Regions from separate parts of the Homo sapiens genome. Here all the other regions are linked to region 2. The links come from fine-mapping of genetic effects on gene expression. A gene starts in region 2. Each other region holds a variant in brackets. All regions are shown on one strand. Distances are between the middles of the regions.

Region 1 (5,369 bases), 24 kb before region 2:
TAAGCAGTAAATTGTGAGACCATATATCTGGAGAGTTTGTTTCTTCTTTTTACATTTTTATTTCCATATTTTGACTAAAAGTGCTTACTAGACTAAAATAACAGAAATGATTTATCTTATTTTGAATGAGATTCATTCACAAAATCATCTCAGCACTAAATGAAAAATTGTATAAATACTGGCCTGCCCCCTCCAGAAGTTTACTTACAAACTTCAGCAGAGGAGCTGTGTCATATACATAGGGAACAATAACATAAAGCAAGATAAACCCACCACCAAATGAGATATTAAGACAACATGTTTTCCAAGAGACAGGAACATCACAGAAGACTTCAGGAAGGAAGGCAGAAGTATTTAAGGATAGCTATGCTTTCATTAGGCAGAAACACAAGTGAAACAGTAACAGTTGACATTTACTGAGCTCTTACCATGAGATGTACTAATCACTTTTCATGTAACAACATATTTAATCCTTACAGCCACTTCAGGAGGTAGGCATTAATACTATCCTCATTTTATAGATCTAAAAACAAACAAAACTAAGGCTTAAAGGAGTTAAGTATCTTGCCCAAGGAGACAAGGTAGATTTTTTAAGACCACAATTTTTGAAGCTCCTCCCATCAAGAGGTGGAGTCTATTTCCTCATCCTTGAATCTGGACTCACACTGCGATTTGCTTTGACCAACAGAATATAGGGGAAGGAATGTTGTGGAAATTCTGAACCTTGGCCTCAAGAGCGCTTGCAGCTTCTGCCCTGGCCTCTTCTGGACCACTTCTGAATTATGGGAAAAAGTCAGGGGTAAAAGACTATGGGGAGAAAGAAGCTCAGCCATCTCTGTCATTCCAGCTGTCCTGCTGAGGCCCCATGAGTGATTAAGTCATCAGGGACAAGCCTCCCACTAACCTACCAGGAGGCACAGTCTCTTCTTCTATCAAATGTCTCCCTCAGACAAAGGAACCCTGATCCCTGGTTTTCTTGTCTTATGCCACTAACCTCGAAATGCCTCAGAATCTTACATCTGCCAAGATCCAGTTAAAAAAGAACCTGGTAGAGTGATTCTCACACTTCTCCACGGACACACCTGAAGGGCATGGGACAGTGACCATAAATCAAGGTATGAGACAACCTAGGGGAGCCACCTACAGTAACACACCATAAGAAATTTATTTTTAGAATTCATTCATATTTTGTATTCTATTTTATACTACACTGCACCTATGTATGTTTGTTTACAGAGATAGCGTCTCGCTCTGTCACCCAGGCTGGAGTGCAGTTGTGTGATCACAGCTCACTGCGGCCTTGACTTCCCGGGCTCAAGTGATCCTCCCACCCCAGCCTGGGACTGCAGGCAAGCACCACCACACCCAGCTAATTTTTAAATTTTTTTGTAGAGACAAGAGTCTTGTCATCTTCCCCAGGCTAGTCTCAAACTCCTGGGCTCAAGCGATACTCCCACTTTGGCATCCCAAAGAGTTGGGATCACAGGCATGAGCCACTGTGCCCCTCCCCTATGTTTGTTTTAACAGGAAAAAAAAATGTTTATCTTCAAATACATCACTAAAATTGATACTTCAGGAAAATGTACCATGGTTACTTTGTAGCTTCCACTACACCCTGGCACATCCTAGGACTCTCTTAACCTCAGTTTGAATGGCAAGGATCTAGTGGAAAAACATAGACTTTGGTATCAGAAATGTCATTTTGTACAGATAAAATGGCACTTTATCAATGGACAACTCAAAACTCTAAATTTTACTCAAAAGATGTTTCCTATAAGGTTGAAGAACTGTTAAGTATAAACCACACTAAACTATAAAGTTCTAAGCACAAGTTAGAATAAAATACTGTTATTCAGCTATTATAAAACAATCTGTATTTTCAAAGTGTTTTGAAATAATGTTTATGTGCTAGCAATAGCTGTGAAACTTCAAACAACCTAACCACCCACCACCCCCAAAACTTCAAACCTGCCAACATTTCCAGCTGTTACAAGAAATCTGCCAGTTCGGTATAATGTGGCCCCTAAATTATTTTTCCAATGGGTGTTGTCTCTCTGACATAATAGATTTGACTGACACTTGTGAAAATAAACAATTTTACGTTTTACTTTAAGATCTTGGGTCAAAATGTTTACTAGTTTTACCTAAACTGAAGAATATAAATAATGCCAAAAGAACTAGACTGTTTCTCAATGTGAAATTACCGGTTTAGGAGCTTAAGCTGTAACTAGCACTCAATTGTCTACCAAATATTCATTCATTGGTTTCATTCATTTGACAAATATTTATAAGGCACTTACTACATGCTGGGCACCAAAGATACACTGCTGAGCAAAAATAAAGACTTTTGGCCACTGCCTTCATGGATCTTCTGAGGGTGGACCCAGTAGATAGAATTTTAAATTCTTTTTTTTTTTTTTTTGAGACGGAGTTTTGCTCTTGTTGCCCAGGCTGGAATGCAATGGTGCGATCTCAGCTCACAACCTCCGCCTCCCAGGTTCAAGCGATTCTCCTGCCTCAGCCTCCCTAGTAGCTGAGATTATAGGTGCCCGCCACCACGCCCAGCTAATTTTTTTGTATTTTTAGTAGAGATGGAGTTTCACTATGTTGGGCAGGCTGGTCTCAAACTCCTGACCTCAGGCGATCCACCCACCTCAGCCTCCCAAAGTGCTGGGGTTACAGGCATGAGCCACTGCGCCTGGCTTAAATTCTTGCCCCTTTCTGTTGTCCCCTACCCTTGAGTGTGGGTGGAATCTGACTTGCTTCTTTCTGGCCAATAAAACATGGCAAAGGTGATGGGACAGTCATTTCCTTGATTACTTTCCATTATATAAGACTCCATCTTAGCCACCTGAAGAGAGCAATTCTAAGCCAGAGAGATCTTCTTGCCGGCCTTGAAGAAGCAAACAGCTATGTTATGGAACT[A/C]CACATGGCAAGGACCTGAGAGCAGCCTCTAGGAGCTGAAAATGGTCCTGGCCAACCACTAGCAAGAGAAGGAGGATCTTAGTCATATCACCGCAAGGAAATGAATTCCACTACCCAACCTGAGAGAGATTGGAAGATCTTTCCCTAGTGAGCCTCCAGATGAGCTATATAGCCAGCTGACACCTTAATTTCATCCCTTTAAGAGCATGAACACAAAACTCAGCTGAAGCCATGACTCCTGACTCACCGTGAAATCATAAATTCATATCGTTTTAAGCAGATAAGTTTGTGGTAATTTGTCATGCAGCAAAAGAAAATGAATTCAGCATAGTGAAGGAAAATAAGCCTATAACCCTTCACATATAACACATAAGGCTCTCTAAAATGCAATTTCACTACCTCTTCCCTCCCCATCTTGCAACTTCCAGGACTGCACTGAATATGTGCTGGCCTTTGGTAATGATACTCCTTTATTTCAGGTGTACCCTTCTCCAATACAAATCTTATTCTTGTAAGTCCAACAGAAGTATCTCATCCTTGGTAAACCCTTCTATATCACCCAGAGTCCAACCTATTTTAATAGCATTTTATTTCTACCATCATTACAGTGAGTCATATGAATATTATTTTTAAGGAACCAACAATTTTAAATTTACCCAATTCTAGATTCATAAATATGGTTACTTCATTAAGGTATAAATCTCTCCCCAAATCATTTGTGAAGTTGTTACAGATTCCATCAACGATAATGTAATGGTTCAAATGGAAGCCGGTTTTTCTTCCTGGGAGACATTTAAGCAATCAATATCTGGAGATAGTTCCAGCTGTTACAACTAGAGATGGCTGCTATTAGTAGCCAGTGGGTAGATGCCAGTGACGCTAGTAAACATGGTACAATGCACAAGGCAGCATCCACAACAAAAAATTATACCTCCCCAAATATCAATATGAATAATGCCAAGCTTGAAAAACCCCACAATAATGTGAGGTTTGAAGCCACTAAATTTGTGGTAATTTTCAACTCCCTCGAAACTGTTTTGTTTATACTGAAACTAAACTATAGAACTTTGCTACTAAAATCTATGCTTAAACCTTCTAAGGGCTAAAAAAGTTCAAGTCTGTTTTCTGAAGTTTTAGTCTACCCTAAGGAGCGCCAAAGCCCAAACAACTACAATAAAGACAAGTTGCATTCCGTAAGACTTAGCCCTTGGTCTGAGAAGCCTTTTCACCCTTCTTCCCCTGACTACCTCCTAACATATTATTCAAAATCCAGCTCAACGGTAGCCTTAACCTCCTGGGCTCAGGCGATCCTCCCAACTTGGCCTCTCAGGTAGCTGGGACTACAAGCATGCACTACCACACCCGGCTAATTTTTTGCAGAGACAAGGTCTCACCATGCTGCCCAGACTGGTCTTGAATTCCTGGATTCCAGCGATCCTCCCCATCGGCCTCCCAGGGCGTTGGGATTACAGACCTGAGCCACCGCACCCGGCTTGCTCCCTCCATGTGCCCATTTCACTGCACTTAGTTCCTAGTTCTACCAAATAATTAACCCAGCACACTGCCTGTTAGTAAGGTGCTAAGTGTTTGTTGATTTTACTCATTCAACAAATATTTACTGAATGCCTACTATGTGCCAGGCACTGTTCTAGATGCAGAAAACACAGCAGAGAAGGCAAAGTCCTGCCCTCATGGCAGGACAAAGAAGTAAATTATATAGTGAGTTAGAAGTGCCATGAAGAAAAATAGCACAGAGAAAGAAATGGATAATGCTCGGTGGAGCCGTGAGTTGCAACAGTAAATGAAATAGTCAAGGAATGCCTCACTTAAGTGACATCTGACTTAACACCTGAAGGAGGTGAGAGAACAAGCCATGTAGACACTCCAGGGAATAGGTCTGCCAAGCAGAGGGGAACATGCCTCACACTGCTCAAGGAGCAGCAAGGAGTCCGCCAAGGAGCAAGTAGTAGATAATAAGATCTGAAAGACTGGGGTGAGTCTGTAGGGCCTTACAGGCCATCCCAAGGCCTTTAGCTTTTACTCCAAGTGAAATGAGGGGTCACTGGAGGATTGTGAATGATCTGTCTCACATTTAAAAGAATCTCCCTGGTTGCCATGTTAAGGAATGAATGAATTAAAGAACAAATAAAAGATCGCAAACAAATCACATTGGCATTTCTTTTTAAATAATAATCTGTTTACATGTTGGTTTTCTCTTCTAAACTTCTAAACTCTCAAGACACTGACTATCTTACCCATCACTATGCTGCCAGTTTCTAGTATATGTGGATGGCATTCAATAAGAGCTCATTGTGGAATGAATAGACAACAGGTGCATCTTTCTTGTTCCCAAGGGGCTGTCCGGTGAGTTTACCAAAAAGGACCCCCATCCATGCTGCTGGTTTAATAGATAGGTCTCCCATTACAATCTAAGATTTATTTTC
Region 2 (5,369 bases):
CGAAGGTCACATATCCTGTAAGAACAGGGACCAGGAATTGAATCCAGAGTCCATGCCTATTTTCTATAGACTGTCTTCTCTGCTCATATTCAAAGCTGAGCTAACTAACCTACCTGCCATCTCCTTGCCTTGGAAGAGCACAGTCTTTACATTTAAAAGATTTCTGTACCATTCATTTTAACATTCATATGTTTTGTCCTATATAACTTTTGGTTTCAATATGTACTTGCATAAAAAGAGGGAGATGATGTGAGAAAAAGGCAAGACATGTAATGGAAAAAGCACAGATTTAGGCATCAGACAGACCTGGGTTTGAATCCTGGCTCTGTCTCCTACCAGCTGTGTAATTTATTATGGGTCTTCCTAATCTGTAAATTGAGGTTAAAATGATTAAACAATAGAAACCCCTATATAATACCCAAATACTCAAAGTTTAGTTTACCTCAAATTATGAAGCATTACCTGGCCACATCCCATCCCTCAAAGGTGAATAACCCATTCCCCTCCCGCACCTACCACTGTCACAAGAACTCTCACACAATGTACTTATCACGGTGTTAGAATTATTCATTTCCCTTATCTCTCTTTCACTAAATTGAGCTCCCTGGCAGCAAAGACTGAATCTTATATTTATCTCTAATTGCCTAGCATGGTACCTGGCATATATATACATATCCATATTCAGTAAACATTTGCTAAGTTAAATAATTGTAGATAAAAATGAGCGCTTATAGAATTCTAGAGGAAAAATCATTTCCAGGTGGGGTTGTCCTGAATTGGTTGGGTGAGGCCAACTCAGCTGAGCCGTGGGAAGCGTCTCAATAGACTGAAAGAGAAAAGGGGAAACCTAGGCAAGGTAGGGAGAATGTTCTACAAAAATCAATGGAATAGGAAAGAACAAAAATGATTAGAGATCCTACTTATTCAGAGTAATGGATCAGGATGGGGTAATTAAAGAAGGAGACCTTTTCAAGCATAACTGGAAAGGTAACCAGGAGCCAGATTAGGAGATGTAAGGGGGTGTAAGTGCAGTCTGGGACACACAGTAGTTGAAGGTAGGCATGAGCACACAGATGAATGGGAAAGGGCTACCAGCATGCCCCAAATCCCGCAGGTGTGTAAACTGAAAAACATGAAAACAATTATTGCTTCATCAAGAACTCTTTCCGTGTTTACTAGGTACCTTGTGTGGGCTCATAAAATATAAGGAATAAAACCCATATCTAGGCTTCTGCTCAAGTGGGTTTTAACATTACGGATCCACCTCTCCTGCTTGTCAGAGAATGAGAACGCTGCTTTTTTTAAACCAATGGGTCTCCATTTGACTCTTCACACCTGGGAAAGTTTTGAACTTTGCCGATTTGGGTTTATAACAACATGGTGCTTTGTACAGTGCCAGGTACTGTGGTGGGCTTCCAAAGTGACTTTCATTCATTCAAAAGGAAGTTTTAACCAATTTCTGAGTCAATTTGGGGGTCTCTGGTTAAAGTCATAATCTTGTTTACGCTACAATCTCTTTTTCCCAGCCTTAAACAAATCTAAATGACTCCTTGCCACTCCCATAAACAAAGAATGAATCAAAGTTCCAGCAGCACTGTAGCTAGAAAAAAGTCTGTAAGGCTGTTAACCTCTTTAAGGGGGAGGGGGAGAAGGGACGCAAGGAAACAAGGACCACACAGTCAATGCTTGAAAACCTTGATTTTCACATTATGAAGACCAGGGCACCTAGATATTGCCAAGTGCAGGCCCAGAAACTGCCGGAGTCAACTACACCCCCCACCCCCACACTACCAGGTCAGCTGGCTTCTTTTCCCCTAAACCACACACCCGCCTCAGACTCCTGACAGCCTCCAGTTCTGGAAATGGCCAGGAAACGAACGCGCCCGGGCCACCTGAACAAGGGCCCGGCAGGCGGCCCGCCGGGCAGCGCTGAAACTGGAGGGGTGAGAGGGCCGCCAGGTGGGCAAGCTGGTGGGCTGACGGACGGGCGGGGAGCTGGCGGCTGGGGCAACCTTTACCTGAAGCTGCTTCCACACTACGGGCCGGGTCGGCCCCGGGACACGTTCCTGAGGGGAGGGCCCGGCTCCCCCACGCCTCCCGGCCCCTGCCCCGAGCTCTGCACTCTCGGGATCCACGGGGACCGGCGCTCCTCCCGGCCCGCTCAGCTGCCGCTTCCCGGGTTAGCCCTCATGCCCCTGCTGCTCGCCGCCGCCGGCCGGCCGAGCAGCAGCCCTATTACCCCGAGCCGCACACGACCCGGAACCACACCCCGGCGTTCCGGAAGTCCCCGACCGGGAAGGAGCCTCTGGCTGGGGACGTAGTGCGCAAGCCCCAGAGCTGAAAGCAAGGAGCGGTAGCTTCCCGCGGGGCGGGGCCGGGAGGGAGGCCGGGCGCATGCGCGCCGCTTCTCCAGTGCAGGGAAAGGCCTGGGTCGGAGACTGAGTTCTGGCAAGATGCGCCAGTGCCTGGACTTGCCTTGAGCAGGAATCAGTGTTAGGCTTCTCCATCGAATCTTCTTTCTCCCCATTTCCACGGAGAAAAGCCCTTAGTTCGTCCAGAAATGAGTGATGAGGCAGCTCAGCCTCTCTGAGAAAGACCTGGGTTCAAATGCCAGCTCTTATAACTTGCTGTGTGTCCTAGGATGTGACACTTCTCTCTGAGCCTCGGGTTTTCCCATCCAGGGCAATAGTTTCAACTTTAGAGTATATTGCTGTGGGAATCGAATGGGATGATGCTTGAAAAACACCCAGCATAGTGCCTGACACATAGTAAACATGCAGTCAATGTTAGTTATTTCTCTTATTATAATATCTGTAATATGGAGGTGACAATAATCTTCCTCAAGCCCTGCTGGGAGGTTTCCAGGAGATGTAGGAGGACTGGCACAGGGCAGAAGTTCAGTGTGTCTCATGCTGCTCCCTTCCTCTCTCACGGAGGAAATCAGTAGAGAAAGCCACGATGAAGGGGGAAAAAGGATTCAGGGAGTGCAGTGAGAGTGGTTCTCCCACCTGAAAGATGCTTGGGGAAGTCTCTCAAAAACGCACCTTAGCAAAAGAAAAAACTCAAGGTTGAATTTCAGCCCTGAGGGACCCCTGCCCAATTTTAAACTTATTAATAAATATGCCATGGGGCCAGGCACGGTGGCTCACACCTGTAATCCCAGCACTTTGGGAGGCCGAGGAGGGCAGATCACTTGAGATCAGGAGTTCGAGACCAGCCTGGCCAACATGGTGAAACCCTGTCTCTACTAAAAATACAAAAATTAGTCTGGCGTGGTGGTGTGCACCTGTAGTCCCAGCTACTCAGGAGACTGAGGCAGGAGAATGGCTTGAACCCGGGAGGCAGAGGTTGCAGTGACCCAAGATCAGGCCACTGCACTCCAGCCTGGGTGACAGAGACTCTGTCTCAAAACAAAAAAACAAAAAACACGGTGGGTCTACCCATGTATTTCAAATATGGTCATCCATCACTTAATGATGAGGACACAAGAAATGCATCGTTAGCTGATTTTGTGGTTGTGTAAACATCATAGACTGTACTTACACAATGTCAGAGCCTACTACACACCTAGGCTGTTTGGTATTAGCCTATTGCTTCTAGGCTGCACACCTGTACAGCATGTTACTGTACCATATACTGTAGGCAATTCTAACACAATGGTATTTGTGTATCTAAACATCTCTAAATGCAGAAAAGGTACAATTAAAAGACCATGTTATAATCTTAGGGGACCACCATCATATGCACTCTGTCATTGACCAAAACATCCTCATTCCACGCATGACCATATGTGATTGATCTCTTACTACATCCCATTACTTTATGTAATTGGTATCTTACCACATATCTATACTGGGGGAATAGTGCACCTCAGCACCCAGACACACTCTTGCACACACACCACCACAGTTCCATCAGGGACCTGTCAGAGGCACTCTAACAAAGCAGCAGGTGTGAACAAGTTTGGATATTTGATTTTCTGAGGTCACCAGGTTATCTGTTCCTTCCTAAATCTTACTCTCCATTTTCCTCTCTCTCTCTCTCGAGTTCCAATCTGAAGCACAGCTGCCTGACTGTCTCCTAGACACATAAAACTCGACCTATCTAAAACTGCTAAGCAGTTATAGATTCTAAAGAGTAAATATTTCCTAGCACTTTGAGAGACCAAGGCAGGAAGATCATCTGAGCCCAGGAGTTCAAGACCAGCCTAGGCAACATGGTGAGACCCCATCACTACCTTAAAAAATTTATCTCTATATAGGCCGGGCACGGTGGCTCATGCCTGTAATCCCAGCACTTTGGGAGGCCAAGGGGTGCGGATCACAAGGTCAGAAGATCAAGACCATCCTGTCTTAACATGGTGAAACCCTGTCTCTACTAAAAAAAAAAAAAAAAAAATACGAAAAATTAGCCAGGCATGTGGCACACACCTGTAGTCCCAGCTACTTGAGAGGCTGAGGCAGGAGAATCGCTTGAACCTGGGAGGTGAAGGTTGCAGTGAGCACACCACTGCAGCCCAGCCTGGACAACAGAGTGAGAGTCTGTCTCAAAAAAATAAAAAATAAAAAAATATATATATACACACACATATACACATATATTTTTTTTAGCCAGGTGTGGTGGTGAATGCCTGTAGTCCTAGCTGCTTGGGAGGCTGAGATGGGATGATTGCTTGAGCCCTGGGAGGTCAAGGCTGCAGTGAGACGTGATCATGCCACTGCACTCCAGCCTGGATGAAAGAGCAATGCCCTGTCTTGAAAAAAAAATTAGAAAAATAAAAAGTGAATACTCACTCTGCCACTTACAAGTTTTGTGACTTCATCTCTCCAAGTTGCTTCTCTAAATATTCTTATCTTTACCTGGAAAATGGGAATGACAGAAGTCCTACATAACCTCATTAGTTTGTTGCAAGGATAGAATGACCTAATACATGTAGCTTACATATAACAGAGCCTGGCATGTGACTATTATTTACTAATGCCTACCAGTATGAGTATACCTCAGTCAGTAAGCAATACTTATTGAGTGCCTATTGAGATTCAGTGGTGAAAAAGCCAGACGGGGACCCTACCCTTAAGAAGCCTTGTAGTCAAGTTCGACTATGGGTTTGAAATACTGTAGTTACTGTGGTAAGTTGGCATGCAGTGATATATGGTAGGATTTCAAGGACAGTATTGAGGGCCCAGTTGAGAATGGAGACTAAATGTATGGTGATACTAATATGATGGCTAGTGTGATTATTCTATAGCTAGTTGGAGCAGTCACGATACACACACCCAAAGAATGAGAAGTTGGATTGATCCAAGGAAGGATTTTGCCAGACAGGTGTGATGGGGTCATATCAGCTTTTAAGAGTGCTTAAAACAATG
Region 3 (5,369 bases), 160 kb before region 2:
CATGTTCATTCTCCAGCATTTCAAGGTAGAAAATGAAAATATATGAGCAAGAGAAGGCCTTGTAATAACTGCAGCATGCCTGCTTTAAAATAAGTCCTCTGAGTATGACTTTATCCATAAAGAGTTTACACTAGTGTGAATGCCACATTTTGTTTCCCCTTAGACTGACCAAAAATTTTTTTTAAAGATCAAAGCGTACTGTGGGAGCATGCGATGTTTGACATTGGACAAAGTACTCTTTTTCAAAACAGACATTTTCCAAAAACATAACTCGCTAGACTAATGGGCAGTGAGAAGCCAAAATGACTGCCCTCCGCCTTCTCCTTGTGTATCTTTGCCAGAGTCCTTGGGACTTGCCAAATCCGGTCATGCCTGCTTAGCTTGCTCGACTGATTGTGCCAGAAAAGAAAATAAGACACAGATGTATTTGAGCTCTTTGAGATGCCAGTAAGAGAGACAGCTAATGGCTTCATTTCGACCCTCCCCTTCCAGCTGGGCACAGGTGGGGGATAATGAGGTCCCTCTCCCTAATCAAACTCAATTATTTACTACTCTATATAACTGCAAAGACATTCACATTCCGTTCAGAATATAAAACACACCGTGGGCTACTTCCAACCACTGCCACTGGGTATTTATAACAAACTCAAGTGGCTAACAGTTTGCCTTGGCAGGAGTTTAAGTGTGTAAAGTTTTGCAAACTGTTTCTGTTCAAATATGTCCTGCTGAAATGGGGTCCCAGGCGGGGTTCCATAACTGTCAGGTCAGTGAACTGCATAACATCTGAGAATGTATTCACCATGCAGTGCAGACAGGATCTGGAAATCAAACGCTTCGTTCTATCACAACCTTCTGAGAAGCATCACAGTTTTTTTCAACAGCAAGACTGACATTGTATTAATAAACATTCCAAGTCACTAGCCTGACATGTACATAGCAGCAGCTGACAGACTCCGACATAAGCTGAGGGGAGAACAGAGGAAATCAAAATGAGACATAGTAACTAAACATGGCCAAAGGGGGAAGCATCACCAAACCAATCACATGGGCTCAGAAATGGGAGCTCCCCGACTTTGAAGACACATATTAACTAAAGCAACAATCTGGCATAATTTTTAGATACAAAGTAAGTTGATGGTTATCTAAAATGTGTGCTTTTATGGTAGGAACAAAGCGAATCCTGGCACAATTTCAAGACATTCCAGTGAGCAAAACATACATATTTAGCTTGTCTGACCTTTAAATTCTTAGAAGTGTGTAATTAATGCTTTCCATCTTTATCACTTGCTCCAATATTTCTGTCACTTTAAACAGACACAAAGAAAAATCCTTTCTTTTCTCTAGACAGTAGCTGTTGCCAAAAAGGAAATCAAGTCAGATTTACAAATACAAAATTAAACAGGCTGCATATGTTACATTTCCATACACGAGGACAATCTGGACAATGAAAATGTTTGCTAATACAACAGAATGAAAAGAAACAACACACAGTTGGTCCTCTATGAATCAAGCAAACAATAAATAACCAGGATAATTTATACTCATTTTGTCAGGCCTGGTTACAAAGAACACAAGCATCTTCTTTTATTCCTTATTCTATTTTAGCTCTGCCTCTTACCAAACAGCATGGCCTTGAATTAGTAACTAACTACCTGTCTCTGAGCCTCAGCTTACATATTATAAAAGTGAATTGCGTATAAGAAACTTTACTGATGGGGTGTGGCCAATTTTAAAATATCATAAAAAAGAAATAAATGATAAAAAAAGAAATAAATGAGATAGCATCTATTGGAGGTATGAAACTGAATGAGTGTGTGAAAATATTCTCCCTGCCCTCCTCTTTTTTTCATTCTCTAGACCACAAGGCAATAGCATATAACAGAAGGAAAGGCTTCAAGCTAATGACACCCTTTAATAAAGGTCTGGTCACTTGGGGTATACTGTGGATTTATCATCAAGAAGGTAAACTAAAACTCCCCACTCTTCTGAAAAGCCCAGTAAAGAGCATGAATGAACCTAGGGCACGCCTCTTTAAAAAAGCAGCTCATCGTTCCCTTTCTGCAGAGCCAAGAGAAGCCAAGGTAGTCTCTGGGAGCCTGCCCAAGGCAGCCCAGCTTCTGGGCTAAGACCTTCCACTGTTACCTGACAGCTGTTACCCAAAGAGCTCTTGGTTAGAACTGTTCCTTCCTCATGTTCCTCTAATATATCAAATATTTAAAGGAAAATACATATATATATAGGAGACAGTTTAACTGCTCTGACTTCTAACCTAAGGAGATTCTGACCATTTTATTGGCCTTGACTTTTTTTTTTTTCCTTTAATGCCCTTCTTCCCCCACTCCAGAGTAGAATCCTGGCATGAAACTTTAATGTCAACACATATAAGGTAATAATACTACCACAGTTGTTTTTGTCATTGCCACTTTTGAACTCAATTCAGTCTCACAAATTCTGACTAAATTAGGTCTGTGTTGGGAATGGGAGAAGGAGACGAACAAGGCAGGTCCCTATCCTTGAGAGGCACTTAGCCCACTCAAGATCTCATTCTCCCTTGTCCTACTTTGTCTAAAGGAACAGTAGGCTTTGGCTTGGTCACTGCTGGCAAGAAACACTTCTTGAGATGCTGGGCACTATCTGAGCTCCAGCTCTTTATCTGGTTTTGGGGGTCAGCCAAAAACCTTCCCATTCCTCCCACTCCCTACTTCTCCTCTCTGACACTACTGATATCCAAACATCTTTACTGCTTAAGCTCAAAGTA[G/A]TCAGCAAGTTAGGGATTCCCATTTATAGATATATTTGCTCTGTCCAAAATCAATCAGGAACAATGGATAGCTTAGGAATCCACTTGAAGATTTGTTAAAAGAGGCAGTTTCCATTACCAGGCTCCTAATTTGCAAGTTGTTAGAATAATCCATTCTCCTTCCCTGAACAACAACTCTATCCAGGGGATTCCTGGGGCCCAGGGGTTCTAGAGGGAAAGCTAGATAGATCTAGTCCTGATTTAGTAAGAACATCAGAAGACATCCAATTTCACGTTCCCTCCACAGAATAATTTTCCAATGAGAAATTCATTAATTAGTTCCCCTTTAAAAAATGTAAATAATTATAAAATATAATTCACAACCTTTGCATGATGGAATGAAGACAAATTTAAAAATTTCTTTTATATGCAGAAACAGATCTATTTCCCAATTTTGCTATAATGGACACATATTAATTATATAATAAAAAATAACTCAAAGGAAGGTTAAACCCCATTCTCACCTTAGTGTAAATTATTCCCACTGAGAATCCCTGACAGAAATAACAATAGCAACTATGTAACACTTCCTACATGCCAGAGTCTCAGCTAATATTAATAATCACAGCAGCATTTCCTGAGGTTCAAGAGCCCCCAGGAATCAACAGATGAATTTACAGACTAAGTTTCAGAATTTAAAAACCTGTTTTCTAACGGTGATGTGAGCCTCTAGTTCCAGCTACTCAGGAGGACTGTCTGAACCCAAGAGTTCCAGTCCAGCCTGGGCAGCATAGTGAGACACTGTCTCTAAAAATTTTTTTAAATTAAAAACAATTTTGATTTTAGTCAATGAAAAGCATATAGAGATGTATTATCTATACATATCAATATATGTATGATATGGATGTGTAGCTATATATATCTATATGTGCTTTTCATTGAACTAAAAGCAAAATTATATGTGTCACCACATATTTTATATATGTCACTGTGTGTGTGTGGGGGGGTGTATGAGATAAAGATACAGATATAGGCCCCTCCTCACTCCTCATCTTCCATGTTCCCCATTTTCCACCCACCTGGGGAGCCCTGAGCCACTGCCTAGAGGAGAAATACCCAAGAGAGTCACCTGGCCTACATCAGACAAATGTGAACAAGAAATAAAATTATTAGGCTGGGCGCGGTGGCTCATGCCTGTAATCCCAGGGGAGGATTTGGGAGGTAGAGGCAGGCAGATCCCCTGAGGTCAGGACTTCGAGACCAGCCTGGCCAACATGGCGAAAACCCATCTCTACTAAAAACACAAAAATTGGCAGGGCATGGTGGCAGGTGCCTGTAATCACAGCTACTCGGGAGGCTGAGGCAGGAGCATCGCTTGAGTCTGGGAGGCGGAGGTTGCAGTGAGCCAAGATCACGCCATTACACTCCAGCCTGGGTGACAAGAGTGAAACTCTACCCAAAAAAATGGGAGGGGAGGGGAGGGCAAGACGGAAAGAAAGAAAGAAACTTATTGGGAAAATCCAGAAGTTGACCAACAAACCTACCCCATGCCCATTTGTCTATGTAGTCTACGGCTACTCACACACTACAATGGCAGTGCTGAGTTACAGAAACTCTATGGCCAATAGCCTAAATATTTACCATCTGGCCCTTTGCAGAAAAAGTTTGCTGAGCTAGAAGCGGTGGCTGAAGCCTATAATCCCAGCACTTTGGGAAGCTGAGGTCAGCAGATCACTTGAGTCCAGGAGTTTGAGACCAGCCTGGGCAACACAGCAACACTCTATCTCTACAAAAAATACAAAAAGTATTTGGGCATGGTGGTGCATGCCTGTAGTCCCAGCTACTTGGGAGGCTGAGGTGGGACGATTGCTCGAGCCTGGGAGGCAGAGGTTGCAGTGAGCCAAGATGATGTCACTGCACTCCAGCCTGGGTGACAGAGCAATACCCTATCTCAAAAAAAAAGTTTGCCAACCCTAGGATAACGTGGCGAGATTTGGGGGGTTATGTGTTCCAGCAGCTAGAGTTATTTAACATAACTAACAAACTTAGTAAAAGTCAAATGGCATTACTGCAAGCTGCATACAGAACTTGTTTGCTGAACAGAGAAAAATGGTGACAGAATTCAGTGGGCACAAAGATCTCTATGAACAGTCTTGCTGGTCTCTGAAAAATCTGTGCTGTTTGGTGCCAAGTCACACTATACACAAGTATCAGTCAGGCAGAGCCCACTTATGTATAGACCAAGCAACAGATAAAGTAGAGTGACCAATCTGGTTTACCTAGGATGGAGGAAGGGGTTGGAGGTGAGCATCAGGGAGTGCTCATAGATTCAGGACTTTCAGTTTTGAAACAGGGAGAGTCCTGGACAAACCATCACAAACTGATCATACTAACAGAAAGCGTGGTGGGCCAAACGTAAAGTAGAGTTTTCTAGGTTAGGAGCGGTGGCTCATGCCTGTAATCCTAACACTTTGGGAGGCCGAGGCAGGAGGACTGCTTGAGCTCAGGAGTTCAGGACCAGCCTGGGCAACACAGTGAGACCTTGTCTCTACTAAAAATAGAGTTAGTTGGGCATGGTGACACATGCCTGTAGTTCCAGCTACTTGGGAGGCTGAGGCAGGAGGGTCCTTTG

What was found. PIP is the estimated chance that this variant, and not a neighbour inherited with it, causes the effect. A credible set is the group of variants that fine-mapping cannot tell apart.
Region 1: its variant is the best candidate, but not a certain one, in a credible set for the expression of MAPKAP1 in whole blood (INTERVAL, PIP 0.77).
Region 3: its variant is the best candidate, but not a certain one, in a credible set for the expression of MAPKAP1 in whole blood (INTERVAL, PIP 0.56).

The regions. Positions count from the first base shown.
Region 1 is chr9:125,680,554-125,685,922 of GRCh38, forward strand. All of the region lies in intron 1 of MAPKAP1 (MAPK associated protein 1), which reads right to left. Among named protein-coding and RNA genes, the nearest start is that of MAPKAP1, 24 kb to the right of the region's middle. The variant A/C (reference allele first, on the strand shown) is at 2,926.
Region 2 is chr9:125,704,953-125,710,321 of GRCh38, forward strand. MAPKAP1 (MAPK associated protein 1) reads right to left here and starts at 2,256. Exons shown (of 12, transcript NM_001006617.3): 1 at 2,019-2,256. RefSeq lists silencers at 1,960-2,189, 2,300-2,469 and enhancers at 2,178-2,472, 2,470-2,629.
Region 3 is chr9:125,549,347-125,554,715 of GRCh38, forward strand. All of the region lies in intron 6 of MAPKAP1 (MAPK associated protein 1), which reads right to left. Among named protein-coding and RNA genes, the nearest start is that of MAPKAP1, 160 kb to the right of the region's middle. The variant G/A (reference allele first, on the strand shown) is at 2,759.